Regions from separate parts of the Homo sapiens genome. Here regions 1, 2 and 4 are each linked to region 3. Evidence: fine-mapped expression QTL. A gene starts in region 3. Each other region holds a variant in brackets. All regions are shown on one strand. Distances are between the middles of the regions. Region 1 holds the start of LOC105376257 (a long non-coding RNA gene). Region 2 overlaps DAB2IP (DAB2 interacting protein). Region 3 holds the start of DAB2IP (DAB2 interacting protein). Region 4 overlaps LOC107987016 (a long non-coding RNA gene).

Region 1 (8,100 bases), 86 kb before region 3:
CCGTCCCATAAGGAGACAAGGACAGAAGGTGAGAAACACTGAGAAAGGCTGGGCTGTGGCCCAAATCCTTTGAGGCCTGAAAACAACCTGTCTCGGCTACCCAAGCCCAGACTAAGCAAGTCTGCTGGGTGAGTAGGAGGGGCAGAGCAGGAGGGAAGCGAGAGCCTAAAGCCACACAGGCTGTCAGGAGGCAGCATAAGTGGCTTTGCCTCTCCGGGAGGGGCCCTGCCTCCAGACCTCTCTGGGTTTGTCTTCCATGCTCACGTGTGGTCATGGCATGTGATCCGGCTGAGCTCACCTTACCTATGGGGAGTTCTGCATCAGCCATAGGGCCACCCTACACGCCTGTTGCAGAAACAGCCTCCCCAAAAGCTACAGGCTTTGCCGCAAGCATCCCCAAGGTTTGACAAGGTTCAAGGCTTGCCTCATCCTATCTTCCTGGAGCCGAATGCATCTGGTGCGCATGTGGGGAGAGGAGGGGGTGTCGAGCATCAGAGGAAACAGGTGGGTGGGAGGCAGAAGGAATGCCTTGGAGCCCTGGCAGAACATCTGGCCACTATTCTTGAGAGGTAGTAGGAGACCTGGGTGCCTTAACCTCCACCCTTACTACCTCACCCCCAGGATTAGTCAGTAAGAAGAGGCCCAATTTGGGGGTTTTGCAGGCCCAGGCTCCAATTCTGGTCGTGTCATTTAGCAACTGTGGAACCCTGGACAAATCCTTTTACTTTCCTGAGTCTCAGTTTCCTCATGTATAAAATGAGGTAATACACTATCCCCTGCAGATAACAGATGTAAAAACACTGGTTAACCAGGAAAAGCATTTAACAAAGCAACTGGGAACCCCAAACTCAAATATCTGAGTGCCATTCATTCAACAGACACTGAAACCCACCAGGCGTCTAGCAGACATTATGTTATCTCCAGCTGTGTATGCCAACCCTGCACCCTCAAGCCGATGCATTCTGAACCCTCCCCAGAGCCAGCAAAAAGTCTTGGGGCAGGGTTGTTGGGGGTGAGGGTTAGAGCTCCTGGCCACCAAAATATTGTGTAAAACATCTCAAACTTCTCCAGAAGCCAAACACATAAAGGAGCCTTCCAGAGAAATACCCTTGGTGTAAAGGAAGTCTAGCTCTGCTCTGGGAAAGACACTTGAGGTAAGCCAGGCTCCAGGATACTCTTATTTAGGGGCCGTGGACCCAGAGAGACTGGTGTAAGGAAAGGGGCTGACGGGGGGAACACAGGGTCAACAGACTCAGCATTCAGTCCAAAAACGTGACAGGGCACAGTGAGCAAGCCTTCCAGAGAGTGGGTGGAGAGGGCTCAGAGAGCTGGGAAAGATCACTGTGGGGGGCCTATCGGCGCTCCTGAATCAGAATCTCCAGGCTGAGATCCACTGGGTCAGCTGCTGCTGGTAAACCTACGCTGTGGACAGAGAACATTCAGGCCCCTCCCTGGCCCTCCCCTCCTCAACATCCTGGGCCAGCTGGGTCCTCACGCACTTCTTTGCTCACTGCTGTCCCCGCCACCTTCTCACCTCCTTTTCCTACTCAACACACCTGTCTGTTCCGACCCCACTGGGTCTCCTTGAGGACACCAAAGGCCTTCATGTTGCCAAAGTCAACCAGTTTCTGTGCCTTACTACCCCGTGAACCCAGGCCACCCTGCTCCAGCTTTCCTCTGTTCTCACAGGCTGCTAGCACCTCACCTCCTTTCCTCCCAGTGCTGGAGCTCCTCAGGGCTGTTTCGGAGACACTTCCTTAGCACAACACTTTCCTTTGGTGATTCTTTCCACTCCCATAGCTCTAAATACCTCCAGCATGCTCACGACTCCTAAGTGCATCCCCAGCCCTATCCTCCTCTGAGCTCCGGACCCATGTGTCTCCATGCTTGCCTGACAGCGCCTCTGGGACACCTCTCGGAGCTTCACGTCTGAAATGTCCAGCGTGGAGCCTCAGTAGCAAAGCCAGGAGCCCTTCCTTTCCCTGGCCTTTGGAATCCAATCCAACACAAATCCTGCTGCTACCCCCTCTGAAATCCCTCATACCTGTTTACTCCTCTCCATCTTCCCCAGGCAGCCTGCTGTCCGGGCAGCCTCCCCAACCACTGGGCTTCCCCTTACCCCTACCAGGGGAGTCAGAGGGACCCTTCAGAAATGCAAATCAGATTACTGAACTCCTCACCTTAAAAGCCTTCAATTACTCCCCACTGCACTGAATAAATCTGAACTGCTACCCAGGTGAAAGACATTGGCAGTCATGACCTACCTACTCTCTGACCTCATCCAGCAACACCCAACGCCCCCCACCACACACACCAAAGTCTCTGTTTCCTGCTCAAGGACTTTGTACTTGCTGCTCCCTAGGCTAGGAGTTCTTGCTCCAGCACACTCTAACAGCAAACTGGCAGGCTTCTGGCATCTTCTGCAACTCAATCCTTCCCTGACTGCTCCATCTACAACAGGTCCTGCCCTGCCCCCATTACTCCCTAGTGGAACACTTGGCTTGTTTCCTTCATAGCATCTTGCTCATGCAGCTAGCAAATATTTAAGTGCAAACTATGTGCCAAGCACTATTTAGGCACTGGGAACACAGGTGCTGAACAAAGCAGACAGAAATTCCCTGACTCACATTTCAGTAGGGGAACTTCACTATGTTTCCCAAAGCAGAATCACTTTGTTTCTCTGCTTATTTCTTATCTGCCTCTCCCATCACAAGGTAAGCTGTGTGTGGCCAAGCTCTACGTGTTGTATTTCTGTGTCTTAAGAGAGGGTCTGACACAGTATAAGAGCTCAGTAAGTCCTGATGAAATCAAGATGCAAAAACAAAGACCAGAGCAGCCAAAGAACCAAACCCCAAACCCTGAGAGACACAAGAAATCAAGAGCCAGGTCTTGAATGCCTCCCATGGCGTCTCTCCCTAACCCTGGGGACCTCAGGTGGGAAGGAAAGCTTCTGTGACAGCCCAGCCTTCTGGGGTCAGACAGAGGCACATGTGGCAGTTTCGTTTAACTGCTCTGGAACAGGTGGATGACTGCAGGCCTGAGAAGTTAGGGAGGCTTCTTGAAGAGGCTAGATCTGAACAAGGCCAACCCACAACTCCCTCCCAGATCTAGGGAGGAGGAAAACACATTTGTGTTTTAGGGCTCTGATGTCTGATGTTCTTTGCTCTAGCAGGAAAGAAGAAAAAAAAACCCTTTACTTTTATTAGTGTCTGGATCAATAAAAGTTTTAGAAGTAAAGCTTCCCTCCTGCAATACTAACTGAGAGAGAGAGAGACAGACATGGATTATTAAATCTGTCTCAGAGAGGCAGGGCTGGGAGAGCGCGAGGGCACAGGGGCACCGGCAGTTTCCCCCTCACCTGTGCTGGGAGCCTCTGGCTAAAGGCCCTCATTAGCCCTGCAGCCTAGGGTCAAGGCCCGTTCCTCACAGCTCACCCACCAAATGCTGGTTCCCTGAGCCTAGGTCAGCAGCCAGGCCGCTGGACACCCACCTTCCAGGTGCCCCACAACCTTGCCTGCTTGGCCTTCTCTGAGCTGTGCCCTAAAGCTTCCCCCCAGCCCACCTCCCCACCTCCAGGTTGGAAGCTCCAGGAGGGCAGGGCTTGCTTCCCTGGAGGAGGAACCAGTTTAGCAACCCCAGCCCCCACCTTCACTCTTCCTCCCATGTCCAAGGGAGTCCCCCATTCAGTCCCCCAAGCCTTGCACTTTCACAGCACACCAACAAGCCCTGCCCACTGAGGACTCAGTCCTGGGACCAGGCCTCATTGGAGAAACAGCTCCTCACCCTCCAGCCCGACCAAAGCCTGTCTGACCCCATACCTGGCTGGAGACCCACCCACCGGGGAGGAAGTTTCCTTGTGGTGTCTGTCCTCCCTCCCACAGGACTTCAAACAGACCTTTGTGGTGGGAG[C/T]GCAGGCCTCTCTGCTGACCTGGTTCTGGGCACTTGCAACCCCCGAGGCTCTGGAGCCAGATCTGGCTTCCGAAGATGGCCAGGTCTCCAGTGAGCAGCCCCTCCGGCCCGGCCCAGGATCTTGCCGAAGTTGTCACTAAGAAGTCCAAGGCCACAGAGGCCCATTCCCAAGGGTGGTGCTCACCCAGGCAGCTCTTCTGGACAGATTAGGGGGCCTCTCGGCCGGGCCGGCATCTAAGAGGTGAGCCTAGGAGGGCTTCCCCTTCCCGAAAGGCACGTGCTGAATCTGTGTCTTCCAAGCTGAAATTTCAAAAATGACTTAAATAAACACAGTGATGACAACATCTAAAGGTTTCCGTGTCCTTCAGGAAACAAGTGGAAAATTACCGTCTTCCATGCAGGTAACCACATGGCACAACCTCCAGGTCCAAGAAGACGAGAAACACTCCTGAAAGCAAACTATCGCTTCCAGCCATGGCAAGTCGCCCTCTGGGGCCTCTGGGCAGGGTGCAGGCCAGAGCACAGAGGTCTGGGTCAAGAAAGAGGGAGGAGCCGTCCCTACAGGCTCCTCCCCTAACATACTGACTCCGCCCAAGGTCATATCCTGCCCCAAGCCCCGCCTCTGGGCCTTTGTATTTGCCATTCCGTGGGCAAGGCTGGTTCCTCCTCATTCCGGTCTCAGACCCAAAGTCCCGTCCCAGGAAGAGGCCTTCCCTGATCTCTCTAGCTAAAGGGGCAACTCCCACCTCCCAAGTTATCACCCTGCTTCATTTTCTCCACAGAACTACCCTGAAGTCATCTTGTTTGTTTCTGTCTTTTACCTATCATGAAAATGTCCGGTCCACGAGAACAGGGACCTGCACGCCCCGGTAAGCCCAGCACACCTCGAACCAGAGCCTGGCACAGAGTAGACACTCGACAGATGTACTGAATGAATGAATGCATTTTTCAAGCTGGTCTGAGCCAGGTCAGCCAGAGCAGTGGAAGGCAGGAGCGGGGGAACCAAAAGATTTGGGGGCGCGCCAAGGTAACCTCCCCCGAGCGCTGCTCCCAGAGCATTCCGGACTAACGTCGGGCTGCGCCACGCCCCAAACCCTCTCCAGCCCGGAAGCGGCCCGCCCCAGCCCCAGCCCTCCGGGCCCTCCCACCCGCCCCCCACCCCACAGCAGTAGGCCCAGCCCTTCCCAGGCCCGGCAGCGGGTGACATTCCGCGGCCAGCTGCCTCCAGCTGCAGCCACTTCCCGCTAGCGACCCGCCGCTGCGCTTCGGCACGCCGGGCGGGCGGGACGCGCAGGCCCTGGAGCAGGGGTTCGGGGGTCTCTGCCTTGCAACTCCTTCCCCACCTTCGTGCGAGTCTGGGTCCCCACCGGCCCCGCCAGCCCCTCACTTGCCCGCGGCCCGGCTCTCGCGGCGCATTCCAGTTTGGCCCGCTGGCCCCACCCCGGGTTCGTCGGGCTTAGACCAGCGCAGCCCAGAGACCCAACCAAGGCAAACGCTCTCCCTTCCCCACATTTCCATTCCAACATTTTAACAAGTGAACACAACTGAGGTCCAGACAAGGCCAGGGGTTTGTCTACCATGATCCCCTAACCCGACTCCCCACCCCGACTTGGGTCTAGACAGCCTAAGCTGAGAAGGGCACTGGGTTCCCAGGCAGCAGTCCCGGGTTTTCTCTTCTGGAAAGCACCCGGCTAGTCCGGCAGGACAGAAGGGAAAGGTCGGGTGCAGGGAAGGAGGAGACAGGCTGGTGAGCTGTGTGAGCTGCCCAGGTTCCCGATTGCGCCCAGAAGCCTGGGGGCAGACAAACCCCTGCCCCACCTGCTGGCCTGGAGATTCATCCTTGGGTCATTTAAACACGGAAACAAAAACCCCTAGGGGAAAGGCACACCCAGCCAACCAGGTATTTTTGCCTGGGGTCACCCTTTTTCCCATCCCACCAGAGAAGCCACCGCAATGGTATCCACTTACTGAGTCTCTACCACATGCAGGGTATCATACCGTCACACCTCCTTCCCTTACAGCCACCAGCAAGAGGTGCTAATCCAGCTGAGGCCAGGAACCCGAGGCTGCACAGCCTCCCGATGTAAATATGAACAGAAGCCAGTGGGAGAACAAGAGCCACACCCTGGAGTCCCACCTAGGTCCTGCCCAGCTCCTCGCATCCTCCACCCTAAGGCATCACAGACCCCAGGTCAGTCCTTGGCAGTTGCAGCCTGCGCCACTGTTTTAGCAAACAACTACTGAGCTCCTACTAAGCTGCAGACTGTGTCAGGCACCTACTGTGTACAGGCAGGCAGGATACTGTCTGGGGTTATTGCAGGACTGGTGAAGAGGTTTTACTGTGTCCCCAGCAGCAGCCCCCAACCTGGAAAGTCCCTGACTCATTCCATCCCCTGCTGGGCCCTAGGCTCCAGGCTCAGCTCTGCCGTGCACACAGGCCAGGCGATCCAACACCACCCCGTCTGCCCACATTTGCATCAGTCCACACCACCAAAGCCCCAAGAGCTACCCAGCTCCCCCTACTGCCTAAAAGGCTCCCAGCCAGAAGAGCACTTAGTGTCCTGTCCCCTTCCTTCTGAGAAGTTTTCCCTCAGAGCTGTCATCTGTTTATCCAATGTCTTAATAAAATTTCCTAGCAGGGGAGAGGTGAAGATAGAGTCTCAGAGAGGTCCTGGGGCCAGAGAAGCCCCCTTTGGCTCCAGAGCAGCCAAACCAACAAGGAAGGCGAAAGCAGAGTGCATCCTCTGAGCACCACCTCCCTCCAGGGTGCAGGCTCCAAGCCAGGTCTGCTCCCACTGATTTCATGATCATGGCAACAAACAGGCAAGGCAGATACTGTGACCACTTTATAGATGAAATCAAGTCTGGAATAGCTAAGTCATTTGCTCAAGTTGACCCAACTACATCTGAAAGTGTGCCTCACCCCTAGACAACTGTTTTTGCACCTTTTACTAGCCCCCTCATTTCCCTCCTCAATCTGAATAGTCCTTCCTCCTGGAAGCCTTCCTAGATTTCCCTCAGGCAAGAAGCATCCCCTTGTTGAGTCATCCCCACTGTTATAATATCTTGTTATAAGAAAACAGGGCCCCATAACAGGGCCTTTTCCTTTGCATGACAGCTCTCATAGTAAGGAGTCACGAGCTAACAAGAAATGAGCCTGCATCTGAGGGTCAGAATATGTCCATCTCCAGTGGGTCTCCCACCCTCACCAGCTGTCTGCTGTTGCTTCCTCTGTGCCCTCCTTCCTAGCCCCTGCTCAGAAGTCTGCATAACCGCTTGCAGGCTCCTTTCAGCAACATCTTTTTTTTTTTTTTTTTTGAGACGGAGTCTCGCTCTGTTGCCCAGGCCGGACTGCGGACTGCAATGGCGCAATCTCGGCTCACTGCAAGCTCCGCTTCCTGGGTTCACGCCATTCTCCTGCCTCAGCCTCCCGAGTAGCTGGGACTACAGGCGCCCGCCACCGCGCCCGGCTAATTTTTTGTATTTTTAGTAGAGACGGGGTTTCACCTTGTTAGCCAGGATGGTCTCGATCTCCTGACCTCGTGATCCACCCGCCTCGGCCTCCCAAAGTGCTGGGATTACAGGCGTGAGCCACCGCGCCCGGCCCAGCAACATCTTTAGTAACACATAAAAGTACAGAGTACACAGTGACCATTCTTGGCCACGTGTAGCTGGGGGAATTTCAGAAGCTGCCCTGATCCAGTCACTCCTGGTTTCAGCATCTCCTGTGGCCACAGAACAAGTCCAGAGCCTTGGGCCTCGCCCATCAGTAGGTCCTACCTGTCCCTGCACACTCCTCACCTTTATACCTGGAGCTTATCACAGGGAACAGTCACAAAGCCCGCCTCCTTTTTTACTCTTCCCAGTGCATGCCCCGCCTTTCTCACAGTCACACACTTGCTTCCACGAGGCTCCCCTCCTGCCCCCATTTCTAATTTTCATTCACCTTTCAAGGCCCAGCTCAACTGCCCCCACCTGAGGGAAGCCTTCCCAGTGGCCCCGGGCACAGGAAAGTGCACAATCTCTCCCTTTCTCTGCCTGAATTCCTGGTCTGACTCCCTTCTCCTGGCTACTGCTGCCTGCCCTGCCAGGCCTTCCTTGGGGTCTGTTCATCTCTGGTTCTCAGGGCCTAAGGGATTCCATACGTGAGTGATGGAGAAACACACACTGCAGGCCGTCTTCTCCCCAGAG
Region 2 (8,100 bases), 63 kb before region 3:
TTAGCTGCAAATCCCATTCATTCCTCTTGACAATGCCATGAACTGATACTATCCCCCATTTTGCAGAGTTAGCTAAGTTCTCTAAAGTCACAGCTGACAAGCGGCAGAGCTGGAATTTCAACCCAGCATTTGCCTGCAGTGTCCTGTGGGTCAAGAGAGGAGACCAGGGCCTGGTGGCTCAGGGGAGTGGGTGATGCAGTGTAAGGACTCGAGTCTGGAGACTCCCGAGGGACTTGTTAAGACCTCGAAGTCGGGTTTTGTTGTCCCTGCAGATAGATCTTGAATGGCACCAAGCCCATCCCAGCGTATGTTGATGACATCCCTTGGGCGTGACCTCACCCACACATGGGGGTGTGCAAGCAGAGTCCGAGGACCCCCGCCCACGCCTCCCTTGCACCATCTGCCTGAACGCTGCCTGAGCTGCTGCGAGCAGCCAGTGAGTGAGTGAGTGAGCCTTGGAGGGCGTGAGGGAGCTGGGAGAAGGCAGCCAGTCAGGAGCCGCGGCTGCCGGCAGCCACACAGACAGGCTGGCGCAGAGCTGTTGCCAGGGCAGGCAGGAGAGTCTGCCTTCACAGGCAGAGGGACTGAGGATGGGTCGCTCTCTCCTGGGCCACCAGCATGTCCATCCAGGGCCTCCCCACCAAGAGCCTGGCCATTCTGAAACCTCGACACATAAGGACAGCAGCCCCACAGGGAGACCACCAGCAAGGAAAGCCATCGAGACAGAAGGCATGGTCACACCTGACATGCCGGAAACAAGACTGTCATAACGCGGCCCAAACAGGGACCTTGGCTGGGGGCTAGAGGCTTCTGGGCCAGGAGTTTCAACAACCCAGGCTCAGCTTGCAGGACACCCATCACTGTGTGGTACCTGCCCTCCCCCTGGACCAGGAACAGCAGGAAGTCCAGGACTGGAGGGGGAGGGGAAGAGAGAAAGAAGAGGGAGGTGGTGCTCAAAGGAGAATGCTCCCAGGAAGGCAGGACCCTGACCAGACTCTCACCCGGGCCTCCTCTCAGTGCCCGGCATGTGGTTGCCACATGGCAGGGTGAGGCACGGCAGCCAGAACTATGGGTAGAGAGGAGTAAACACGCCAGGAGGGGCAGGTCAGAATGCCCAGGGCACTGCTACGTGGTATGCTGTCCATATGCACACATACTAAGGTCAATTACACACCGTGTGATAAACAAGTGTGTGACCCGAGTGAATCTGCCCAGGGGCGGATTCTCAGGATCCACATGCCAGGGGTAGCTACAGCAAGCGCGTTAAATAGTTTTCTGTAAAACTGCACCGAAAAGGATGCAGTGTTTCCTCTCATGTGTAGAAACGTGCTTCTGCTAGTACAATGAGTGGCTTTTAGCTAGCTGGATAAAAAGGGCTTGTGGGCACCGCCATCCTGTCTGTACCTGCCCTGAGATTCAGGCTAAGCAGCAGGCCAACTCTTAGGAAGCCACTCAGAGTCCAGAATTCTGCTTGACCCGAAGTCCCACCACTTAGAAGATCCTGGCCCCTGAGCCGATGTGGAAGTTGGTAATTCCTACCATGAGGACTGCATAGCATCACCTAGGGGTGAATCTATGGTGAAAAGTGCTTCTCTGAGGGCAAGATTCCCCCGGGGCTGCCCCAGGCTCACAAGAGACCCCGGCCCATCTTCATGAGTGCTTGCTATGACACATGCGTGCACAAGGCCCAGCTCCGTATGAGACTTGCCTTCGCTGAAACAGTCTTCCTGGTAGATGCTAGGAGCAAAGGAGACAGAGTTCCCACTCACTACTCATCATTAGAGGCTACAGAAATTCACCAAATAACCTGACAACAGCAAAGTGGACACTTTGACTTAGCGGGAAGAGTGACTGCAGGGTTGACCATGGGAAACGTGTGGCACTGAATTACCACGCCTACCTTGGTGCAATGGCTCCCATCTTGGTCTTTGGCCAATCTGGGAAACTTGTTTCCCCATCACATTCCTGGGCCTCAGGCATGTGGCTCCTGGCCTCCAAGGAGGCAGGAGCAAGAGCAGAAAGCAGAACACTGGGTACCAACCCCAGGATGCCCACTGGTGTCTCCTGGCAGCACACTGGGGTGCTGGGACGGGGATGGATCCCCTCTATACTCTCAGGGCCAGTCTCTAAGGGCCCTGCTGTTTATGTGAAGAACTAAGCAGAATTATTTTGGAAATGGAACCTGAGCAGGACAAAGAGCTGGGCTCTGCAACCAGCCCACATAAACACTTAGCCTCTCGCCAGGAAGGGCTGCAGTTTATATTTCGCAAGGGACAGGGCACAGCCAGTCAGACCTAAGTTTGGGATGAAACTCAGTTTCCGGACAATAGCAGTAGCAAAGCATCCCAGGCCAAGTTCCTGCCTCACCTGGGGTTCAGCTGAGCACCAGGCTCTGCCTTACATGTGGCCCTATGGGCACAGTGTGGCCTGGCTTCCTGAGCTGGCAGCAGGCAGTGTTACATCCAGCCCAGGAAGATAAAAGTATACTCCACTACCACCATCCCTTGGAGGCCTGTGACCCTCTCAGAGACGGAAGAATCCAGAGCTGCTAACTGGGGATCTCAACACTTGAGTGGGTCTCAGAATCACCTGGGGCTTGTCAGGAATACAGATTCCAGAGCCCCCCTTAGACCTGTGACCCTGACCCTCCCAGGGTGGGGCTCCAGAATCTTTTTACCAGGTTCTCATGGCACTATGATGCTCAGCTACAACCAGGCACCAAGACAAAGTGGGATGCCTCTGGTGCTCCTTCATAATGCCCACAGGAAATGCCTGGACTCTCCTTATCTGCTGCTGCCACTCCTGAAACCTTGGGAAGTTTACAAGAACTCACAAGCACCTTCCTTAGAAGCACCTTCAGGTGACCATACCTCCACCCACCTCTGCAGACAACTGATAGGCCCTACCTGATGACAGTCCAGCTGGGATTAGAGGCAGGGAATAAACCAACCCATTTCATGGGGAGAGAAGTGTGTTATTTACAGAGCCTTTTGAAAGAGGAGTCACTAGTTGACCTGGCATTTTGATCATCAGAAAACTACCCAAGTCATGGCCGGGTGCAGTGGCTCAGGCCTGTAATCCCAGCACTTTGGGAGGCCGAGGCAGGCAGATCACGAGGTCAGGAGATCGACACCATCCTGGCTAACACAGTGAAACCCTGTCTGTACTAAAAATACAAAAAAATTAGCCGGGTGTGGTGGTAGGTGCCTGTAGTCCCAGCTACTCGGGAGGCTGAGGCAGAAGAATGGTGTGAACCTGGGAGGCGGAGCTTGCAGTGAGCCGAGATCCTGCCACTGCACTCCACTCCAGCCTGGGCTACCGAGAAAGACTCTGTCTCAAAAAAAAAAAAAAGAAAGAAAGAAAAAGAAAAAGAAAACTACCCAAGTCACGCTGTCATTAAAAGGAAGCAAAGACCCAAGAAAGCAAAGAGGCCTGGCTGTGGCTGTTGAGGGTTCCCCCTTTCTAGAGTCCTATAACCCTCTCTCTAAAGACTCTCAGGCAACCACCATGAAGCCCCCTGCCCTGCAGGAGCAAGGTCCTTAACCCTAGCTAAAGAGACACCCTCAGGGCAGCAAGTGCCAAGGCCAGCTCCCTGGAGCAACGGGGCATGCCCCTTGGCATGGGTTCCCCATGTTCAAATCTGGACTCTGCCATTTAAGGGTTCTATGACCTCTGGCAAGTCTCTTAACCACCTTCAGTCCTGGTTTCCTCGCTTGTGAAACGAGAAATATCCACTTCTTAGGATGGCTGGAGGGTTAAGGCCATACAAGTCCCGTGGCAGCCCCTCCTATAAGACCCAACAGGACTGCACGAGTTCTCCCACTGCCCAGAAGGTTCTTCCCTGAGAGCTCAGCTTACTCCTTTTGTCATCGGGGAGGCCCTCCCCACCACCCCCACCAGATGAAACCCTTCAGATCTGGGCTCTCACTGCCTTCAGGACACATGCCTTAATTGCAATTACACAGTCACCTGTAGGACAATTGCACTTCAGCCTGTGTC[C/T]TCCACTAGGGGAGGAGCTGGGGCTGGTTTTGCTCACCATTACATCCCTCAGCTTAGCACCATGCCTGGCATGTAACTGGCTCTAACTGAAGAGTATCCTCTTCTTTGAGACCAGGTTGTCAGAGCACCTGTCCCATTGTTGGCTCCTGACTTCATCACTCAGTAACTCCTGAGTCCAGCCTCTATAATATTTGAATCGGTGCCCCGCCCTAAAAGGGAGGCTCACAGCGCCAATAGCTGCCTGCCTGTCTCCCTGCTGCTCAGGACTCGGCCTTGCATGGCTCTGCAGATTTCACGTAGTAACACCTTCTCAGAGTTTCCGAAGCAAACCAAAGTCATTTGCCAACCATTTTCTCCCATTAATCTCACAATGCATTTGCTATTTTCCCTCCATAATGACTCATTTAGCAGCAACAGAGCAATTAGGCAGACCACAGAATATTGATTTTCTAAGTGGGAGAAATGTCAGCACAAACATCACTTCATGTGTCTTGGGCCATCTCTTGCTATATATATGATGAGGTGGACCCTGGGAAGACTGGGTTGGATGTGCTGGCAGGTTGTGGGATCTCAAACAAAAAAGCAAAAGCATGGTGTGTGAGAATGTGAGTACATGTGTGTGATGACAGAATATGATCAAATTACCATGTAACATGATCCCATGTAGACCTCAAAACCCTGGGAGGTAGGCACCACAATCATGGTGCCCATTTAAAAATGAGGAGACAGAGGTTCAGAGATTAGGTGACTTGTCCCAGATCATGGAGGAAGTCAGGGCGTCGGATCTGGATCTGGGTCCATGTGTCAGCAGAGCAGGATTCTGTTCATCAGAGAGCCCCCGTGTGGCTTGCTTTGGGACCAGAATGGAAGTGTCAGGTGTGGCAATGCAGTACCTTTCATGGTGTATGGTATAACCCAAGATTTTTGAGATATAAAACAGTTGGCCTGAGTCCTGAAGTCACATCTCAGCCCCGGTGCAGCCTCTAAGCCCAGCTGCTGTGAACAAATTCACCCCAGGCTCCCCTGGCCATCCACCAAGCTTGTCCAGTAACTCTCAGGAAGGCCTGGAGAAAGACAAGCCAGCTGGAACCCCCTGCCCTGCTCCTTCACCCCTGCACCACCACTACTGGCCAAAGTTGAGTGCATACCCAGTTTCTGGGGCACCTCAAACATTCCCACCCTACAACAAGAGGGCAGGAGAAGGAAAAGGGTGAGAGTCGGGAATGGTGTGATAAGCAGGCATCTGGCGGTTTTAGGCCCCTGTCTACAAATGGCTCCAAAGCCAGGCCCCACAGCTTGGAAACCCTGAAGGAAGGCTTTCACTCACTCCTGCCTCCACCCTCTAGACACTCCAAGCAAGCTGGGAAGGGCACTGTCAGAGCAACAGGTCCTAAGGCCCCACCCCAGCCAACATACTGACATCTATCCAGGGAGCAAATGGTTTCTTGGTGGCCAAGAGGAAAGAGCTGAAGGCCCAGCTGGCAGACGTGGGTTTAAATATCAACTCTATGTGCCCCTGGGTGAGACAATTACCCGCTCTGGGCCTCAGTTACCTTATCTATAAAATGGAATAATCCCTGCCCTGCCACCTTCCTAGCTGGTGTGAGGGCCATGTGGGGAATGACAAGGTGCCACATAAATGCTGCCTGGGGAAGCTCCACAAAGGGGGAAGTTTACAAGAGTTGGCACTGTCCTCCAAGGGCAGGGGCCGCTCCAGGTGGAAAGAGCTCCCCATTGCTGGAGATGTGCCAACACTCTGGAGTGCCGGTGTGGATGGGAAGCAGAGCATCCTGTACGCCCTCCCAGGGGCTCAGACACACGCTGGCACATTAAAGCCTCTAAGGAGCCATGCATTAAAGAAACTGACTGACTTGGTTCACTGGACCTGTTTGGACTGTGGAATTCCCTCATCCCAAGTACCCATTAACATCTGTAAGAATATGTTCAGTAGAACCCATTTAAGAAATACTCCTACAGAAGGTTTGGAGCAAGGCCTTTCAAGAGTACTCATGGCGTGGCGAGACTCTAGGACTTTCCCCAATGTCAACCACATGTTGGGGGCAGGCCCACCCCTTACTCTCCTTTCTAGCATGAAAGGGAGACAAGGCCATGCGTCAGAGGGAAAATTCACGTCAATGAAACACCATCAAAAGGGATTTAGAAATCTCAAATAGGAATCACTCCCAGGCTACCTCCAACTTTAACAAGCCCAGAAACTGGGAGGGATTGAAGAAGGGCCCCAAGCAGAAACACCTCCCCCTCCCCTACTTGTCTGAAAACTGGCCCTCATTGCTCTTACCTGCTGCATAAGCATTGCTCCCTTTGGGCTGCCAGAAAAGAGGGCTAAGCCCCACAACAGCTGATCACACTTCAGAGAAAAAGGGTTAGTGGGACCACAGAAAGCAAGAAGAATAAGAATCCTAAACCATCTGTGTGCTAGAAAACCCATGTGTGGATCCTGGAAGAAAGCACACACTACCCCTCACCTGCCCTTTATCATGCTATGGGAGCCATGTGGACACACCAGAGCCAGCCCCCAACCCAGTGCCCTCTCCTCTCTCTGGGGGCTCCATGCCAGGAAAAGCAGAGGAGTCCAGGAACCATCGGCTCCCCTGGAAGAGCTCCGGCAAACCTATCCATGGCAAACCCATCCATAACGGTGCAGACTTTGCTCCCAGCAAGGACAGAGCTTTATTAATTATTCAGGAGACGGTGCAATTATGCAAATCTGTGGGCAGCCTCTGCCTGACCACTGCCTTCTGCAGAGGGAGTCTAGAGGGGGATGGGGAGGCCCAGAGCCCAAGCTGCCAGGTACATGGACGCCACCCAGCCTGCAAAAAGGGGAATAAACCCCTACACCCTAGGCCTAGGCTGGTCCCAGACAAACCACCTCCCCACAGAGGGCTCTCTGACCAGAGCCAGGCCCCATCCCACACACAGGAGAGCTGGTAGCTGCTTTGAGGAATGATATTGAGGACCTAGGATGACTTTTTTCAAATACATATGACCCACTACCTGTTGCTGAGCCAGCAATGCCATCATTCAAGGCTTACTCCTGCAGGTACTAAGGGCAGGGAACACTTCCAGAGTTTCCTCCAAAACATGCTTCTGAGGAGACATAACACCTCAAAAGAATGTTTACCAAATAATGTTCTGCAAAATACAACTGCTCCACAGATGTTAACAGCTGCTCCTGGGGTTGGGGGACAGGAAACCCTGGATTAAACAAAGCAAAACTGACTTCTTCATTGCAGGACCTCTCAGGGCCTTTCATCTCCTGGGTCACAAATGATTTCCCAAGAATGAGGAAGCAAAATTTGAGGATGTAAAATGTATTTGAGCACACAATCACCCCACTGGAGTAAAACATCAAGTCTCACCTCCAAGAACCTCTGACACTGAGTTTGAGAAACTCTGGACAGACTGCTCCCCAGTCCTGTTTGGACTATGGAATTCTCTCATCGCAAACGCCCATTAACATCTTTAAGAATGTGTTCCATGGAACCCAGTTCGGGAAAACACTCCTATGGGTGCTCTGAACAATAAGCAGCAGAGGTACGAAAGACAACAAGGCCTTTCAAGTGCACCCCTGGCTTGTACAGACTCTAAGACTAAGTTCTCTGCCAGCTCCATTTTTCCTTAATTCTGAAACTCTCTGGAATAGGTTTTCACTATCCTCATAAACAACCATCAAATTCGTGGACTTTATGATCCTAGGGCAACTGAGCAAGACCACCTCAGGCAGGCTGGATGGGCTCCGGGCAGAACATCTGGCCCTGGCACTACCACTTCCCTACGTCACATCCAGTCCACAGAAGGTGGTGACACCAGGGCAGTGTGGCCTGCAGCACAATAGGCAACTCCCTTGGTGAGTCTGCTGTAGTACTGCCTGGGGTGGCTGGGGATTTCAGCGCCAGCTTCACCCATCTTCCCACAGATCCTGAGCAGAGGCTGGTGGGGGAGTCCCTGGCCACCATCATCATCACCCTGTTTGCCTTCACCCTCCTGGGTAGTGATGGAAGTCACCTCTATGTTCTTCTGACCTTGGAGGAAGGGAAGTGCTATGGAAGGCCACTTAGCCTAGCCACGACCCCTTCTTGT
Region 3 (8,100 bases):
AAGGGCTGGGAGCACATGTGATTCATCTCCATGTGCCCCTGCACCCAAGCTGAAGCCCAGCACATAGTAGGTGCTTAAGAGGAGCTGACTGGCTGAATGAATGGGTCAGAACTTTATCCAGGGCTAGAGGAAAATTTCTGTTTCTCCTAGCAGCCCTGGGGAAACACAGGGGTCAGAGACAAAACTTTTCTTGATTTTGGTGTGACTAGGTGGGGAGGCACCTTGCTGATGATACCCTTCTGGGGAAAGGATCCCCCCAAATCCATGGGACATGCCCAGCCTTCAAGTGGAGTTAGGGACACAGTGGGAAAATGCAAATGGCCCTCACCCTCCGAAGGTCACTGTTTCTACCCCACCTCCAGCTACCCTCCAGCTTCGTGCTCTACCCCCCACCACAGCAGGTCTCACTCTGCCCATCCTTCAGATGGGGAAACTGAAGCCCAGAAAAGGGAAGAACCTAAGTCCCTTATTGGTCAAACTAGGGAGACTGCAGATACTGTCCCTCACTCACAGCCCTACCAGGGACAAAGCCCTGCTCCCTTCCCCCAGCCTGGCCACCTGCAGAACCTGGCAGCAACCAACTCTTCCTTGCATTTTTCTGTTTCTGAACAAATACACAGCCTGAGTTCTTGGTCATTTTCCTTCCCTGCTAGTGCCAGAGGCCAGAAAGGGTGTGGGGGCAAGAGTCTGATCCAGGCTGAGATGCTAGGCACCACCCACTCCTCTGAGGTCCGATGCTACCACACCATGGGACCAAGCCCCCATGTGGATGGGGAGGCTGAAGTTCAAGGTCAGAAGGGACTGGCTCAAAGGCCACAGGGTGGCTTCCTCAGCCTGAGTTTCTCCCTGGGTGGGGCCCTGCCCTCAGGTGGTGGTTGTGGCTCTGGGGTAGAGTCAGGCGTCTGAGGCTTTAGTGGAGGGAGGGCAATGGCTGCCCTAGCTGCCTCCCACCAAGGAGGAGGAGGACAGGGTGCCTCCAGCCTCCACCCTACACCCTGGCTGCAGCTGTAACTAACTCCTCATCACTCCAGGCCTTCTTTTTTTAAAAAAACAAACAAACAAACAAACAAAAACAATATTGAGACAGGGTCTTGCTATGTTGCCCAGGCTGGTCTTGAACTCCTGGGCTCAAGGATTCCTCCTGCCTTGGCCTCCCAAAGTTCAAGGCCCTTTATCAAATCCAAACTACTGTTGCCTGCTCTTCCCCACCCACTCACCCAGCCCCCTTCCCAATCCACTCCCCTCCCCAAACCCAGGAGGAACTCTATTCTCAATACCCAAGCCGTTTTCCTTCTCCCTGACTGCGCAGTCTGTTCATTCTGTCCAGAGAGAAGACAGTAGCTCACCCTCAGCTGCAGCCTTAGTCCCAGGCACTGGCTTCTGGCCCTCACATGACCCTGTCACTGCTAGCCCCATTGACCACACAAGGTCACTGAGGCTTGGAGAGGTAACTGGCTGTAGAATAGTTGTGTGCACAGCTGAGACTTGAACCCAGATCTGACTCAATTACTCCCTCTGCGAAGGGAAACCCTATCCATTTTGTGAGATCCCATCCAAATGTCACCTCCTCTGTGAAGCTCTCCCTGATCTCCCCAGATATAACTTCTGTTCAGAGACAGTCTCCTCCCCGCTCTGCAGGCCGTGAGCTCCTTCAAGCTGGGACACAAGCAGTGATCCTGTGTATGTGGGGTCTGGGAGCTGGGGCTCAGGTGACAGCCCCTGACACATTGATTATCCCCTGCCTGGTCAGCTGAGCAGGAGGTCAGCTGAACAGGAGCGAGACTCCCATTACAGTCAGGGATGGAACTGGGCTGAGGTGAGAAGAGGAAAAGGTCACACAGGGCATTTCTGAGGCAAAGGAGGGGCGGGTGGGTGAGGTGACGTGAGGTGGGTGCAGAAGGAGAGGCCCCAGGGTGGTCTGAACAGTACTGGGCATTTTCAAAGCTCCCATTTCTCAGTTTCTTCACTGAATCCTCCACATACGGCAGGTCCATTTTACAACCAGGAAAACTAAGCTCAGAAAGGGGAAATGACTTGCCCAAAGTCACAAAGCTTGAGCCCAGATTCCCGGTCTCCCAGACCAAGTCCAGGGGAAGGGAGTAAGTACAGAATTAACAGTACTAAGCCTTTCTCCAGGTCTTAGCAAGTACAGAATTAAATAGAAGGACAGAGATAGAAGAACCAAAACCTGAACCACTGAGATAAAGCCTTCCCCAGGTCTTTAGTACTCCCTCCAAGGAGTACTAAAGGCTTAGTACTCCCTCCAAGGAGTACTAAAGGCTTAGTACTCCCTCCAAGGAGTACTAAAGGCTTAGTACTCCCTCCAAGGAGTACTAAAGGCTTAGTACTGTTAATTCTGTACTTACTAAGTAACTTAGTACTGTTAATTCTGTACTTACTAAGACTTCAGGAAAGGCAGGAGTGGGGGGATTGCAGGCTTTGAGAGACCCTTGAGGACTGAACTACCAGCACACACCTGTGCACACACTTAGCCTCAGCTTGAACCCTTCTGTGCACAGGGAACTCACTACTTCCTGAGGAAGCCCTGGACTGCACAGTGCTACTCAGACCTGACTGTGGGAAAAGTCTTCCCCATTCTGGTGGAAGCAACCGAACACTACCTGCCTGCTTCATTTACCCTCACACCGACAAGAAAACTGAAGTTCAGAGGCAGCTCAGCCCAGGTCACACAACGGCAGCCTGCAGGGTGGGAATGTGGCCCCTCTTGGTCTACCAGATTCCCTGCATGGCATTTGTTGGCACAGGGCCCGGCTTCCCACTTTCAAGATAACCTGATGGTGTCAACTCGGCCCAGGTCCCTGCTAAGGCGCCGTCTTTCTCCTCCCTTCCACCCCACGGGCACCCTCGGTGGGCCTGAACCTCTGCCTAGGACTCCAGCCTCCCCAGAGCCCCTTTGAAGGCCTCCTCCTCCCAGGGGCTTCCCTCCCTCCTACTCAGCCAGGGAAGGAAGTCCCGGCCACCACCCGCCCAAACGCAGCCCCCGGGATCACACGCATTTCCAGCCGAGGATCCTGTTACTGGAAAAAGAAAATGCTGCTCGCACCTCCCCCTCCGTCTCGTCCTGCCTCCTGAGCTTGATGGAGAGAAACTTTGCAAAGGAGCTGGCGCCCACCCGCTCGAGGGGTCACGGTTCCTTCCCTGAGGTCCACCCACTTGTCCTAGCACCCAAGAGGTGGGGAGCCCGTTAAGTTCCTGGAAAGGGAAGAAAGAAGTCCGCGGCCTGGGCTGGGAAGGCAAGGTGTGGGAAAGCTCAGATCCACCCTGGGTTACTTTATTGCCCGGCTGCTGAGTAAACTGAGGCACAGTGGGGTAGGAGGTCTGATCTGAGATGCGGAGAAAGATTCCAGGCTCCCCTCTCCCTGTCCCTGGCTTAAGAGGAGACCCTAGAGCCTCGGCTTCCCCCGGCGAGAGGAGGACTAAGCAGAAGCTGGGGGAATGGGGGGTCCGGCAGACTCAGGAAGGGGCGGATGAGGAAACCCCCGGCAAATGGCTGGAAGGAGGATCCCGGTCCCTAGCATCCCAGGGCATCAGGTGGCTTAGTGGCCTTAGGAGGGTCTAGGGGTCAGGGGTCGGGGTGGCGCCTACCCCTGGCAGGCCGGGTCCGGCTGCGGGAGCGGCTCCTCTGTCGCTGCAGCCGGGGCCGCCTCAGCAGCCGGTAGTAGTAGGAGGACCTCCCGGTGCTCTTCCTGGCGCTGCCGCCCGCGGACATGCTGCCGCCCGCCGGGCACCGGGCCGGGCCTGGGCGCGCTCACACGGGCCCCATCGGCCGCTCCGGACAGCCCGGCGGGCGCCCACGCGTTCTCCCGCGCTCGCCCGAGCGGCCGCCGAGGCCCTGGCTGCCCCACAAAGTCGCTCAAACTCCTCCTCCGCCTCCTGCCCCCTCCCGCTCCCCGAGCAGCCGGCCCCGCGGCGGGGGCTGGGGACCCGGAGGCCGGGCTGGCACCGGCCCGGAAAGTCAGTGCGGGAGAAATCCCGGCCTGGAATCGGCGGGGCGAGGCGGCCCGGAGTTTCCCCGGGACCCCAGACGGGTCGTCCCGAGGGTTCTGGCTCCCACCCCCGCCCCCGAGGGTTCGACCGTCGACCTGAGGGCGCACCAGGCACCCAATCCCGCCAGCGCGGGTAGACGGTGCACACCTGCTTGTGCGCTCTCCGGAGCCCGGGGTAGGACGCATGCTTGGGGACGGTCACCTTCAATTAGGGTCCGTTCCTGCCCCAGGCTCGCTGGGCTGAGAAACGACCCTCACTGCTCCGCAGGCCCTGGCCCAGCCAGGTTGAAAGACTCCCCTGTGATGCAGGATACTTGCCTCTTCTTTACGTTTTAAAGGTTGTCCCGTCTGATACACGTATCATTTTTATGTAATTAAAATTACGGTGTCTGTTTCAAGCACTCAAAGCACTGAAGGCAGGGCAGAACAATCCCTACCCTACCGTAGGCACCAGAAACTCAGGGTGGCAGAAGGAAAGGTACCAACTCCCTCTATTGCATTGGCTGAAAAACTTTCTCCAAGTCACTCCTCAGCTCAAGAGCTTTCCGTGGCTCCCCAGAGCACAATGGCAATACGTCTAAACATCCTTGTTATTTGGACCCCAAATAATCTTGCCCCAACCAAAGTCCCCTCCAGCCTCACCTCTGCTCCCCCTAATTCTCACTTCTCTTTGCTGTGCTGCCAGCAGGGACTGCCTTCTTGGCTATTTTCTCCACCCGACCAAAGTCCACCCTTTCAGGACCCAGCTCCTCCACCCTTCCCTAACCATGGCCCACAGTGATCTCTCTCTCTCCCCGCCCCTTATCTCTTTAGCAATATTCGTCGTTTAAATTATTAAGACACCTGCCTGAGCTGCCTCCTTTGAAGTACAGAGGGGGAAACTGAGGCCTTGGCAAGGAGGTCTTGCCTCAGTCACATGGAAAGTGGCAGAGGCAAGTGGTCTTAGCCTGGGGCTCTCAACATTCAGACTTAGGGGTGGGGGGTGTGAGTCACCGCAAGTGCCTGAGGCCGGCTAGGGGATCTTCCTCCAGAACAGTGGGGAAGGTGGGGCCCTGGAGTGGGCGGGGCCGTCTGGGCAGAAATCCAGGCCGGGTTTTGCACCTCACAGGGGAAGCCCCCTCCCTAGCGCTCTCAGCCAGCGGGGAGGGTCCCTAGTCCTGCGGAGCCTGTCTCACAGCTGGAAGCCAGGCGCCTTCCCTGACCAGGGGGGAGGGGCAGGAGGGGTGTTACTCCAGCAAACTCAGTCTGAGGAGTCCAGAGCTATCAGCTGCCCTGGTCCCCTCTTCCCTGAATACTGGCCAATCCCACAGGAAGATGGAAAACCAGGGTGCCCAAGAGGACACCCTTAGCCTCCTTTGGGTTAGGCCAGGGGTGCCCAATCTTTTGGCTTCCCTGGGCCACACTGGAAGAAGAAGAATTGTCAGGCCACACATAAAATATACTCACACTAACCATAGCTGATGAGCTAAAACAAACAAACAAACAAAAAAACCACACACACAAAAAAACCTCATCATGCTTTAAGAAAGTTTATGAATTTGTGTTGGGCAGCATTCAAAGCCATCCTGGGCCACATGCAGCCGGTAGGCTGCAGGTCAGACAAGCTTGGAGGCATTGCCCTATCTCCTTTCAACAGCAGACATGGTGCAGGAACGTCTCTAAAAAGAAGCCCCTGGACAGAGCGCACACACAGTCACTCAGTCCCCAGGCAAGCTGGGGGCCTTGTTAGCATGCATCCTCCTCTGGCCAAACTGCCAGAACCCAGTTCAGTGCCTCCTCACGTAGGTGGGGTTCTGAGCACCACCTGTCCACATCTTGGCACTTCCAGGCATGACTAACCTCCGTAGCCAGGTCCACGGGTTCTGGGGGTGAGGGACTCCCAGGAAGTCCTACTCAGGACGGGGGCAACGGTCCTGCTCCCAGGGCCTGAGTTCATCTGGCCCATTTTGTTTCCCAAAGCAGGAACCCTCTGATCAGCCAGGTTCCAGCCCTCCCTGGAGGGGACGGGAGGCTCACAATCAACTCACTGTTATCAGTGGTGTGGGCAAGTGGTCTTAGCCTGGGCCCCCAACAGGAAGTCTGAGGAGTGTGTGTGGAGGGGAGAGGGGGCAGTAACTTGGAACTCAGGACCTCATCTGTAAGCACAGCTGGGCTCCAAAGGTCTGGCATGGTCTCCCCACTTCAGCTTTTCAAGTCCTTCTCTGTGCCTTAGTTTCCCTACCTATAGGGAGAACGTATGGACCCCCAATCCATCTGCCTTGTGGAGGAAGGAGGGTCAGCTAGTGAAATGGAGGAAGCTTGTGCATTTCTACCCTTGGGATGGGAATGGGCATCGCCAACCAGCTGAGCCGAGCATCTCCACGGGCCTGGGGCAGGTACTCTCCGGGTACTGAGTGGGAAGGGGGCAGGGCAGGAGCTAGGAGAGAAAGAGCCCAGGCTCCTTTTCCTTCTTCCTGGCCCAGGAACAGGGCAGTTAAAGGCCGCTCCCTGTACAGCCCAGCAGGGGACCTGGAATCAATCCTGCTGGGAAACTGGCCCCCCATCTGCTCCCACCTCCCGCCGGCGCCCCTGTGGCTTTCTCTCTCTGAACAGGAGAAGCCCTGCTTCCAGTGCCCACCACCACCATTGCTACCACTGCTTCCTGTGACAGACCAACAGATCGGACTTTCCAGCCCTGCCAACATGAGAGCCTCAGTACCTACAGGGCTAAAGGTCTGGTCTTATTCTCCCACCTCCAGAGGGGCTCCTGAATAGGCCCAGCTCCCACCTCTCCCATGTGCTGCTTTAGCGGGGACAGGGCTGCAGCCCCCAAATCACCTTCACTCAGTGAACAGGCATATTTCTGAGTTTCCCTCAAGACGCTCAATTCAGTGGGTCTGGATGGGGCCTGGAAACATGCAAGTTTAGTAAGTAGGGGTGTGGGTACTAGGACTGGCTAAATCAGATCTGACCTAACCCCACCACCAGCACCTTTACCCTCCCCTCAAAAGCCTCCCAAGGCGAACTCTCAGAGACCAAGCTGTGTCAAAAAGCGACCACCTCCCGCTTGCACCCCAACCCATTTCAGCCCCCTTGGTCATCCTCCAGACACTCTTTCCCACCACCAGTCTTCGCCCTGTTGGTGGGACCTGGACCGCTGCCACCAAGGTCTTCCCTCTGCACCCACCTGGTGCATTCCTGCTTACCCTTCAGGACCCAGCTCAAGCATCCCCTCAGTTTTTTATTTTTTAAATTTTTTATTTCCATAGGTTTTTGGGGAACAGTTGGCATTTGGTTACATGAGTAAGTTCTTCAGTGGTGATTTGTGAGATTTTGGTGCACCCATATCCCGAGCAGTAACTTGGGATACACTAAACCCAATTTGTAGTCTTTTATCCTTCACCCCCTTTCCACCCGTTCCCTGAGTCCCCAAAGTCCATTGTGTCATTTTTCTGCCTTTGCATCCTCATAGCTTAGCTCCCACTTATGAGTGAGAATATATGATGTTTGGTTTTCCTTTCCTGAGTTACTTCACTTAGAATAATATTCTCCAATTCCCATCCAGGTTTCTGGGAATGCCATTAATTCATTCCTTTGTATGGCGGAGTAGTATTCCATCATATATATACATATATACCCGTATATATATATAATACGTATATGTATGTATATATATAATATATATGTATATGTATGTATATATATGTGTATATATGGGTATATATACGTATATATGTGTGTTTATGTATATATATGTGTGTGTATATATACATTTTTGCAATTGCAAATTGAAGCACCCCCTCCTTAAAAAAGTCTACTCTGACTCCAAGGAGAGACACCCCCCTCCTGGCTCCTGGTATACCCCACTAGTCAGTTTGAATAATGGGGACACAGGAGGCTACTTGTGAAGACCAGGGAGGGATGGACCCAAAAAATTCCCCTCTAGGCAGAAAACCATCAGCATCCCTGCTGGAAAAGAAGCAGTGGGTAGCATCAGAGCTGGGCTGAAAGTCCAGGTACATCATGGGCCAGGCCAGGGTGGGTCAGCAGGGGCACCAGATGCAGGGGAGGGAGGCTAGCCCAAGGCAGTCTTGAGTCCCTCTGCGGTGTCAGG
Region 4 (8,100 bases), 92 kb after region 3:
TTATGAATTAGACATGTTTAAGTACAACCAGAGCTCCTACCCTCCAGGGATTAATCGTATTGAACATCGGGCACTAGGCTCTGCTTCCCTCCCTTTATGATAAGAGACCCATCTATTTAGTGGCTGCGTAACATTCCACCCTTTGGCTGTGTCACACCTGCTTTGAGCCAATCCCCTATTGATGGACACCTAGGTTGCTGCCAGTAGTCATGATGACAAGCAACGCTGCAAGGACTATCTTGACTGTACTTCTGTGGGCATCTGTCTACTGATCTCCTTAGGAGAAAACCCTAGACATCAACTTGCTGGGTCAAAAGGCGCCTGTGTTTGCAAAATTCCCAGTGTGGCGGCAAAGCGCGTGCAAGCCCCCTCTGTTCTTTTATTCATTCCACCAGCTGTTGTTGAGTCTGATTTTGTGCCCGGCCCTGTAGAAGGCCTGGGATGGTGGGTGTCCCTGCTCCTTTGAATTTCCACCCTAGCTGGGGGGAGACACGCACGCTGTCTGGTAGAAAGGAGTGCTATTCAGAGAATTACATGGGGGCTGCACAACAGAGCAGGTGATATCCAAGCAGCAACCTGCCAGGCAAACAGAAGCCAGCCATGCAGAGTTCAGGGGCCGAGCATCCAGGAGTGGGCAGAGCTGCTGCAAAGCCGGGGTGAGAGTGAGCTGGCTGAGCAGGAGGGTAGGAACGATGGCCAGCATGGCCAGGGCTGGGAACCGCTGGAAGAGTAGTCCAGGAGAAGAGGGGAAGGTCACAGAGGCCACCTCTCCAAGGACCTTGTGGGCCAGGGGATGTGGGAGCCATTGCAGGTTGAAGCAGGAGAGTGACATGAGAGGTTCCCTGGCTACAAGGGGAAGGTGGCCGGAGGAGTGGCCAAAGAGGATGCAGGAAGCCAGTGGGTCACTGCTGTGGTCCCTAAGGAGAAAGACCTCAACCAGGGTGTTGGTAGCAAAGGTGGGGAAAAGTAAACAGATTCAGGATACATGTGGGGGCCGGGCACGGTGGCTCACACTTGTAATCCCAGCACTTTGGGAGGCCGAGGTAGGCGGATCACGTGAGGTCAGGAGTTCAAGACCAGCCTGGCCAACATGTTGAACCCTCGTCTCTACTGAAAATACAAAAATTAGCTGGGTGTGATGCTGGGCATCTGCAATACCAGCTACTCGGGAGGCTGAGGCAGGAGAATCACTTGAACCCAGGAAGCGGAAGTTGCAGTGAGCTGAGATTACATCATTGCACTCCAGCTTGGGTGACAGAGTGAGACTCAGTCTTGAAAAAGAAAAAAAAGATATATGTGGGGACCTCACGCACAGCCTGACAGATGTGGAGGAAGAGAAAAGAAACATGTCCAGGCAGACTCTGAGGCTCTTGGCCTGAGCAAGTGGATTGGTCCATGGAGCTGGGAGAGGCTGTGTAGAGAGGGGTAGGGCTGGGCAGAGGGAACTCTGCTGTGGTGACGATAAGTTTGAGAAATGTAGACAGACATGTGGCGATGTCCGGCAGGTCACTACTGGCTGCGGGATCAGAGCTCAGTGGAGTGGTGGGGACAGAGGGCATAGCTCTGGGAGCCATAGCTCCCACCAGCCCACTGCATGATCCTGTTCCAGCAGCAGCAGGAATTCCCAGGTTCCAGACATGACCTGTCACTCCATGTAAAGGAAGGAGCTGAGGAGTCACTGGTGGCAGCTGGCCCCCCGAGTCTGGCTGCGTGGAGGGATGTCAGCAGGAGGGAGTGGGTGGACCAGGGTCCTTCAGTGGGCATCAGGGAGAGACAGCAGCACCTGGTGGCCAGCTTGTTCATTGGCTGCCCTGTTGGGGAGGATGTGGCCAGTGAGGGTGGCACAGCAAGATGTGGCATCTGCCCCACTCACCCCCTCTGCCCCTGCCAAGGCCTGGGCTGGGTGGAGATGGGGGAGCCAAACACAAAGGAATAATTGAAACCAAAACCCAGGGGCCTAAAAGCTGTAAGAAGACAGGTCTAGGGTAAAGGAGCAGCATGAGAGAGGAGTGATCTGCTCAGCCGGATCCAGAAAGCCTTTGCAGAGGTGGGGCCAGCCCAGTTGGACTATGAGGGATGAAGAGGAGTTCATCAGGCAGACTGGAGGAGGACGGGCATGTGGCACTACTGTGTATCAAGGCATGCAAATGTGTGACAGCCTGGCTGTGTTTGCTTTCAGGTTATTTTCCTGCTGTGAGTTCTGATTTTTGTTTTGTTTTGTTTTGTTGAGACAGAGTGTTGCTCTGTGCCCTAGGCTGGAGTGCAGTGGCGCAATCTCAGCTCACTGCAAGCTTCGCCTCCCAGGCTCCAGCAATTCTCATTCTTCAGCCTACCAAGTAGCTGGAATTAGAGGCACACGCATCTGTACCTGGCTAATTTTGTATTTTTTGTAGAGATGGGGTCTCACCATGTTGGCCAGGCTGGTCTCAAACTCCTGGCCTCAAGGGATCTGCCCAGAGTGCTGGGATTACAGATGTAAGCCAATGAGTAAGCCACTGATTTTCTAGCTACATCCTGCTATTGAAGGCCAAATGGAACCCATAGAGGGCTCAGAATGTCTTACTCTTCCTGAGATTCGGAGCCAGGGTGGAGACTGACCTAAGGCGGGGGCACTTTCCTCAACCCAGCACCACTCGTCTGCAGGACACGGACCCTAGCCATTTAGCCAGACCCACGTGGGCTGGAATCCGGCGTCGGCTCTGGCTCCGGTGCCTCCCGACTGGGTTTCTCACCCCAAGGACAGGTAGCAGAGCTTAGTGATTTGGAGCTCAGGATCTGATATCAGCCTGCCTGGGTCCAAATCCCAGCTCCCCATTTTCCAGCTGGATGACCCTGGGCAAGTGATTTCACTCCTTAGTGCCTCTGTTTCCTCATCTGTAATCGAGGATAAAAATAGGCCATGCCTGGAGAGCCATTAGGAGAACTAATGAGTTAATTCAGGTAGAACTTAAAATGGAACTTGGGGCCAGGAGAGGTGGCTTATGCCTATAATCCCAGCACTTTGGGAGGCCGAGGTGGCGGATCACCTGAGGTCGGGAGTTCGAGACCAGCCCGACCAACGTGGAGAAATCCTGTCTCTACTAAAAATACAAAATTAGCCGGACATGGTGGCGGGTGCCTGTAATCCCAGCTACTCAGGAGACTGAGGCAGGAGAATCACTTGAATCCGGGAGGCAGAGGTTGCGGTGAGCTGAGATCGCACCATTGCACTCCAGCCTGGCCAACAAGAGCAAAACTACATCGCAAAAAAAAAAAAAAAAAAAAAAAAAAATAGAAGTTGGACCAGAGGAGGTGCTCAGTGAATCTAAAATCCATAGCCCATAGCACAGCCTGCCAGGCCCTGCAAAATCTGCCCACCAGCTCATCTCCCCCTCCTCCCATCTCTTTCCCCTCTCTCCTTGTCTCCCTCCCTCTCTCCTCCTTTCCCTTCTCTCCTTTTCCTTTCTCCCTCTTCCTCTCCCCCCTCCCCCAACCACATGGGCCTCCCAGTTTTTCTTTGCACTGCCAGGTGCATCTCACCTCAGGGCTTCCCTATTTCTTCTTTTTTTCTTATTCTTTTTTTTTTTTTGAGATGGAGTGTTACTCTGTCACCCAGGCTGGAGTGCAGTGGCCCGACCTCAGCTCACTGCAACGTCTGCCTCCCAAGTTCAAGTGATTCTCCTGCCTCAGCTTCCTGAGTAGCTGGGATTACAGGTGTGTGCCGCCATGCCTGGCTAATTTTCATATTTTTAGTAGAGACGGGTTTCACCATTTTAGCCAGGCTGGTCTGGAACTCCTGACCTCAGATGATCTGCTCAACTCCACCTCCCAAAATGCTGGGATTACAGGTCCCTCTATTTCTTCTGCTTGGGATGAGAGCCCCCTCCCCCGTGTTCAGGTCCTGGCCATATGCTGCCTCCTTTAGAGGCTCCCCTGATTACCCTCTCTAAGATATCATGACCCCTGCATCCCTGCCTCTCCCATGGCTCTGTCTGCCCCTGTCCCGGCTTTAGTTTTCTTCCTGGCCCTTCGGATCCCACCTGACATTATTTATATATTTATTTGTGTATCATTCTCCAGCCCCTACTTTCATGGAAGCTCCAGTCTGTATCCCAGCACCTAGAACTGTGCCCAGCACAGTGGGCCCCCAATAAACATGTACTGAATAAAATATTTGGCCGGGTGTGGTGGCTCATGCCTGTAACCCTAACACGTTGGGAGGCTGAGGCAGGTGGATCGCTTGAGCCCAGGAGTTCAAGACCAGCCTGGGCAATATGGCAAAACCCCATCTCTACAAAAAATACAAAAATGTGCCGGGCTTGGTGGTACACGCCTGTAGATCCAGCTACTCAGGAAGCTGAGGTGGGAGGATCACTTGAGCCTGGGGTGTTGAGGCTGCAGTGAGCCATGACTGCACCATTGCACTTCCGCCTGGGTGACAGAGCAA[G/A]ACCCTGGCTCAAAAGAAAAAAAAAAAGTATCTGTGGAATGACTAAGCGTTGGCTGAGTTGTTATTTTTTTTTCCCCACTCCCTCTCGCCTTGTATGCACTCCATCCAGGAGCCCTTATTGAGGTACTGGGTTCCTTCTCTGTCACCCAGGCTGGAGTGCAGTGGCACAGTCTCGGCTCACTGCAACCTTCACCTCCCAGGTTCAAGCGATTCTCCTGCCTCGGCCTCCCAAGTAACTGGGATTACAGGTGCAGGCCACCATACCCAGCTAATTTTTGTGTTTTCAGTAGAGCCAAGGTTTCACCATGTTGGCCAAGCTGGTCTCAAACTCCTGACCTCAAGTGATCCACCCACCTCGGCCTCCCAAGTGCTGGGATTACAGGCGTGAGCCACCGCGCCTGGCTCTCCCTGCATCTTAATGCTTTTCTGGTTGGACTGGGTCCTCCCCACTTCTCATTCAGGGCTGGTACCCGGGGGCCAGAATGGGAGGAGGGAGACCAGAGGGTCTTGTACTCAGAGAGGCCTGGTACTCTCCATGCACCTCATATATCAACCTTCTAAAAAGGTTTTCTGAGCCCCATTTCACAGATAGGAAAGCTGAGAGGCGTTCAAGGGGCTGAGAAGCAGCAGAGCTGGGGCTTGAGTCCGCCTGACAGGAAGTCATTATTCGCCCCAAGTAAACACCCAGTGCCTCTTAGCCAAGGAGGGCAGAAGTATGTCTGGGTGGGGGTGGCAGGGAGGTGTGGAGGTGGGAAGGGGCCTTCAAAGAGGGAATGTCTGAGCCAGGCTTTGGTCTGCTCCCTGGTGGTCTCACCTTACATCCCGGGCCCCTCCCACAACTGTCCTTCTCCAGCCCCCGCATTTAGGGAGGCGGTGGTCTCTGCTTTATTATTATTTTTGCAAACTTTTATTTTAGGCGCAGATTTGTTATATGGGTAAACTCATGTCACAGGGGTTTGTTGTACAGAGGCTTTCTTGACTCATCTAAAGGCCTTGAACCAAGGGTTGGCACCGCCTTAGGAATTCTGAGCCAGCCCCAGGGGACGAGGGTGCATTGCCGGCGGCCCTGTCATCGGCTCCCCAGGGCAAGCAGGGGCCACAGACAGCCAGCTGCCCCATGTGTGTGCTTGCCTAGGGTCCTCGTGAGTTCCCACGTCCTCTCAGGGAATCCCAACTGTCCCAAGGAAACCCAGGCTCAGAGGAGGAAGTGGCTAATCAGCCGCACAGAGGGAGGATGTGACAGGCACCACGCTTTGGGGCTGGGTTAGAAATTTGAGTCCTCCGCTGTGGTGCGGCTGGGGAAGTTAAATAACTTGGCACTCCCTCCCCCAACACACAGCTGATTCCAGGGCCCAGACTCTCAACCACAATGCCCTGTGGCCTCCTCCTAGTGCTGCACAAATGTGAGGTGGAATTATTAAACAACCTCAAACCTTTCCAGGAAAGAAGGCAAGCTATAAATAAATGCCTGGAGTTGGGGGATTTCCAGGGCTGAGTGGACGGAGATGATGGTCTAGGGTCCTCAAAGTTCCTGGAAATCATCAGTTTCATGATGAACTGTGGGGCTGGACTTGAGATGTGTTGGCTGCTGGGTCCCACGGCTCTGCCTCGTGTTCCAGGAAGCTGTTCCCTGGATTCCCGTAGCAGGCACACAATTGTAGGAGGTCAAGGCAGGGATGAGACACAGGCTTGTGTGGATGGAGTGGGATCTTCAGCAGCTGGCAGGAATAGGGCCCTCTGTCCCCTTTCCCAGCCCCCAGAGCTTGGCCTTGGTGAGGCACAAGGGCCTGGCCATCATCCAAGAGAACCCCAGGCTTCCTGAGCTCTGTGTTGGAAGCAACTGGAGATCTCAACCAGTAAACCCTCCAACAGGGCAGCAATCTCCTGACATCCTTGATCTAAACTCCGCTTGCTTACCTCCTCAAATGGGGAACTCCCTACCTCCAGGCAATCCTGGTCCTAGCTTTTCTTTTTCTTTTCTTTTTCCTTTTTTTTTTTTTTTTTTTGAGACAGAGTCTTGCTCTGTTGCCCAGGCTGGAGTGCAGTGGCACAACCTCGGCTCACTTCAACATCCACCTCCTGGGTTCAAGCGATTCTCCTGCCTCAGCCTCCTGAGTATCTGGGACTATAGGCATACACCACCACGCCTGGCTCATTTTTGTATTTTTAGTAGAGACGGGGTTTCACCATGTTGGCCAGGCTGGTCTTGAACTCCTGACATCAAGTGATCCACCTGCCTCAGCTTCCCAAAGTGCTGGGATTACAGGCGTGAGCCACCACACCCCCTAGCTTTTCTTTTTTGTTTCCATTTGTACAAATGTATGAGGTACATGTGCAATTTTGTTACATGCATAGATTGTGTAGTGGTCAAGTCAGGGATACTTACGGGGTATCCATCAGGCGAACAACATCCATTGTACTCAGTAACTAATCTCTCATCCTAGTTTTATTCTCTGTGCTCACAGGGAGTGATTCTGCCCCGGGGAAGCCCCTGAAGTCATCAGAACTCCCCACATGAGCTCAGCTCTCTGCATTCCACCTGACCCTCCTCCCCAGCCACCCTTCCCCATGCTTCTTGGCTAGTTTTCAGGTTTTGTGGCCAGTCAGGATAAACCTCAAGAAGCTTGGAAGCATTTCACCAACCCGGCAATGACAGCAGTTTATGCAATTCAGCAAACTTTCACCAGGGACTATGCCAAGTGCTGGAGACACAGAGATGAATCAGTCAGTCACTGCCCGTGAGGCTCTCCACTCAGACGGGGATTGGGAGGGTGGGGAGGGATACCCGAGGCATCAGCCAGGAGGGGGCTGGATCAGCAAAGTGAGCCTACCTGGTGGAGGGGAGGGTTTGAAAGGATCCTTTAGGGTAGCTAATTTCCCAGTGACAGAGAGGGCATTTAGGATAGGTGGACACAAGAGAAAAAAGCCAGACAGGCCACAGAGCTACTGTTTGGCCCCAAGCAATATATTATATGTCGGGGTTGGCAAACTTATTCTGTAAAGGGCCAGGTGGTATTTTAGGTGCTCCAGGCCATGTAGTCACGGATGCGACTGCTCAACTGGCCACTGTAGCTTAAAAGCAGCCATAGACAATATGTCAATGAATGAGCATGGCTGTGTACCAATAAAACTTTATTTGTTGACACTGAAATTTGAATTTCCTGTCATTTTCTTGTGTCATAAAACAGTACAGTATTATTTTGATTTTTTCCCCCCAACCATTTAAAAATGTGAAAACAGGCCCTGTGTGTATGTTCATGCCTGTAACCCCAGAGCTTTGGGAAGCTGAGGTAGGTAGATTGCTTGAGGCCAGGAGTTCAAGACCAGCCTAGATACAAAAATTAGCCGGGTGTGGTGATGTGTGCCTGTAGTCCCAGCTACTTGGAAGGCTGAGGCAGGAGAATCTCTTGAACCTGGGAGGCGGAGATTGCAGTGAGCCGAGATCACACCATTGCACTCTAGCCTGGGTTACAGAGTGAGACTCCATCTCCAAATAATAATAATAATACCAGCCTAGGCAAATAGTGAGACCCCATCTGTACAAAAAATAAAAAAGTTAGCCTCAGGTGTGGTGTGTACAGGAGGATCCCTTGAGCCCAGGAGTTTGAGGTTACAGTGAGCTATGATTGTGCCACTGTCTTCTAAGGCCTGGGTGACTCTGTCTCTTAAAAAAA

What was found. PIP is the estimated chance that this variant, and not a neighbour inherited with it, causes the effect.
Region 1: its variant is fine-mapped to the expression of DAB2IP in whole blood (TOPMed, PIP 0.99).
Region 2: its variant is fine-mapped to the expression of DAB2IP in whole blood (INTERVAL, PIP above 0.99).
Region 4: its variant is fine-mapped to the expression of DAB2IP in whole blood (TOPMed, PIP above 0.99).

What each region holds. Positions count from the first base shown.
Region 1 is chr9:121,733,511-121,741,610 of GRCh38, reverse strand. All of the region lies in intron 3 of DAB2IP (DAB2 interacting protein), which reads right to left. LOC105376257 (a long non-coding RNA gene) reads left to right here and starts at 4,561. Exons shown (of 3, transcript XR_930314.4): 1 at 4,561-4,778; 2 at 5,931-6,100. RefSeq lists an enhancer at 2,966-3,742. The variant C/T (reference allele first, on the strand shown) is at 3,910.
Region 2 is chr9:121,710,603-121,718,702 of GRCh38, reverse strand. All of the region lies in intron 3 of DAB2IP (DAB2 interacting protein), which reads right to left. Among named protein-coding and RNA genes, the nearest start is that of DAB2IP, 63 kb to the right of the region's middle. RefSeq lists an enhancer at 1-585. The variant C/T (reference allele first, on the strand shown) is at 4,000.
Region 3 is chr9:121,647,406-121,655,505 of GRCh38, reverse strand. DAB2IP (DAB2 interacting protein) reads right to left here and starts at 3,872. Exons shown (of 16, transcript NM_001395010.1): 1 at 3,607-3,872. The coding sequence starts at 3,730. RefSeq lists enhancers at 337-836, 5,295-6,130.
Region 4 is chr9:121,555,718-121,563,817 of GRCh38, reverse strand. All of the region lies in intron 1 of LOC107987016 (a long non-coding RNA gene), which reads left to right. Among named protein-coding and RNA genes, the nearest start is that of GGTA1, 60 kb to the right of the region's middle. RefSeq lists an enhancer at 5,494-5,788. The variant G/A (reference allele first, on the strand shown) is at 4,427.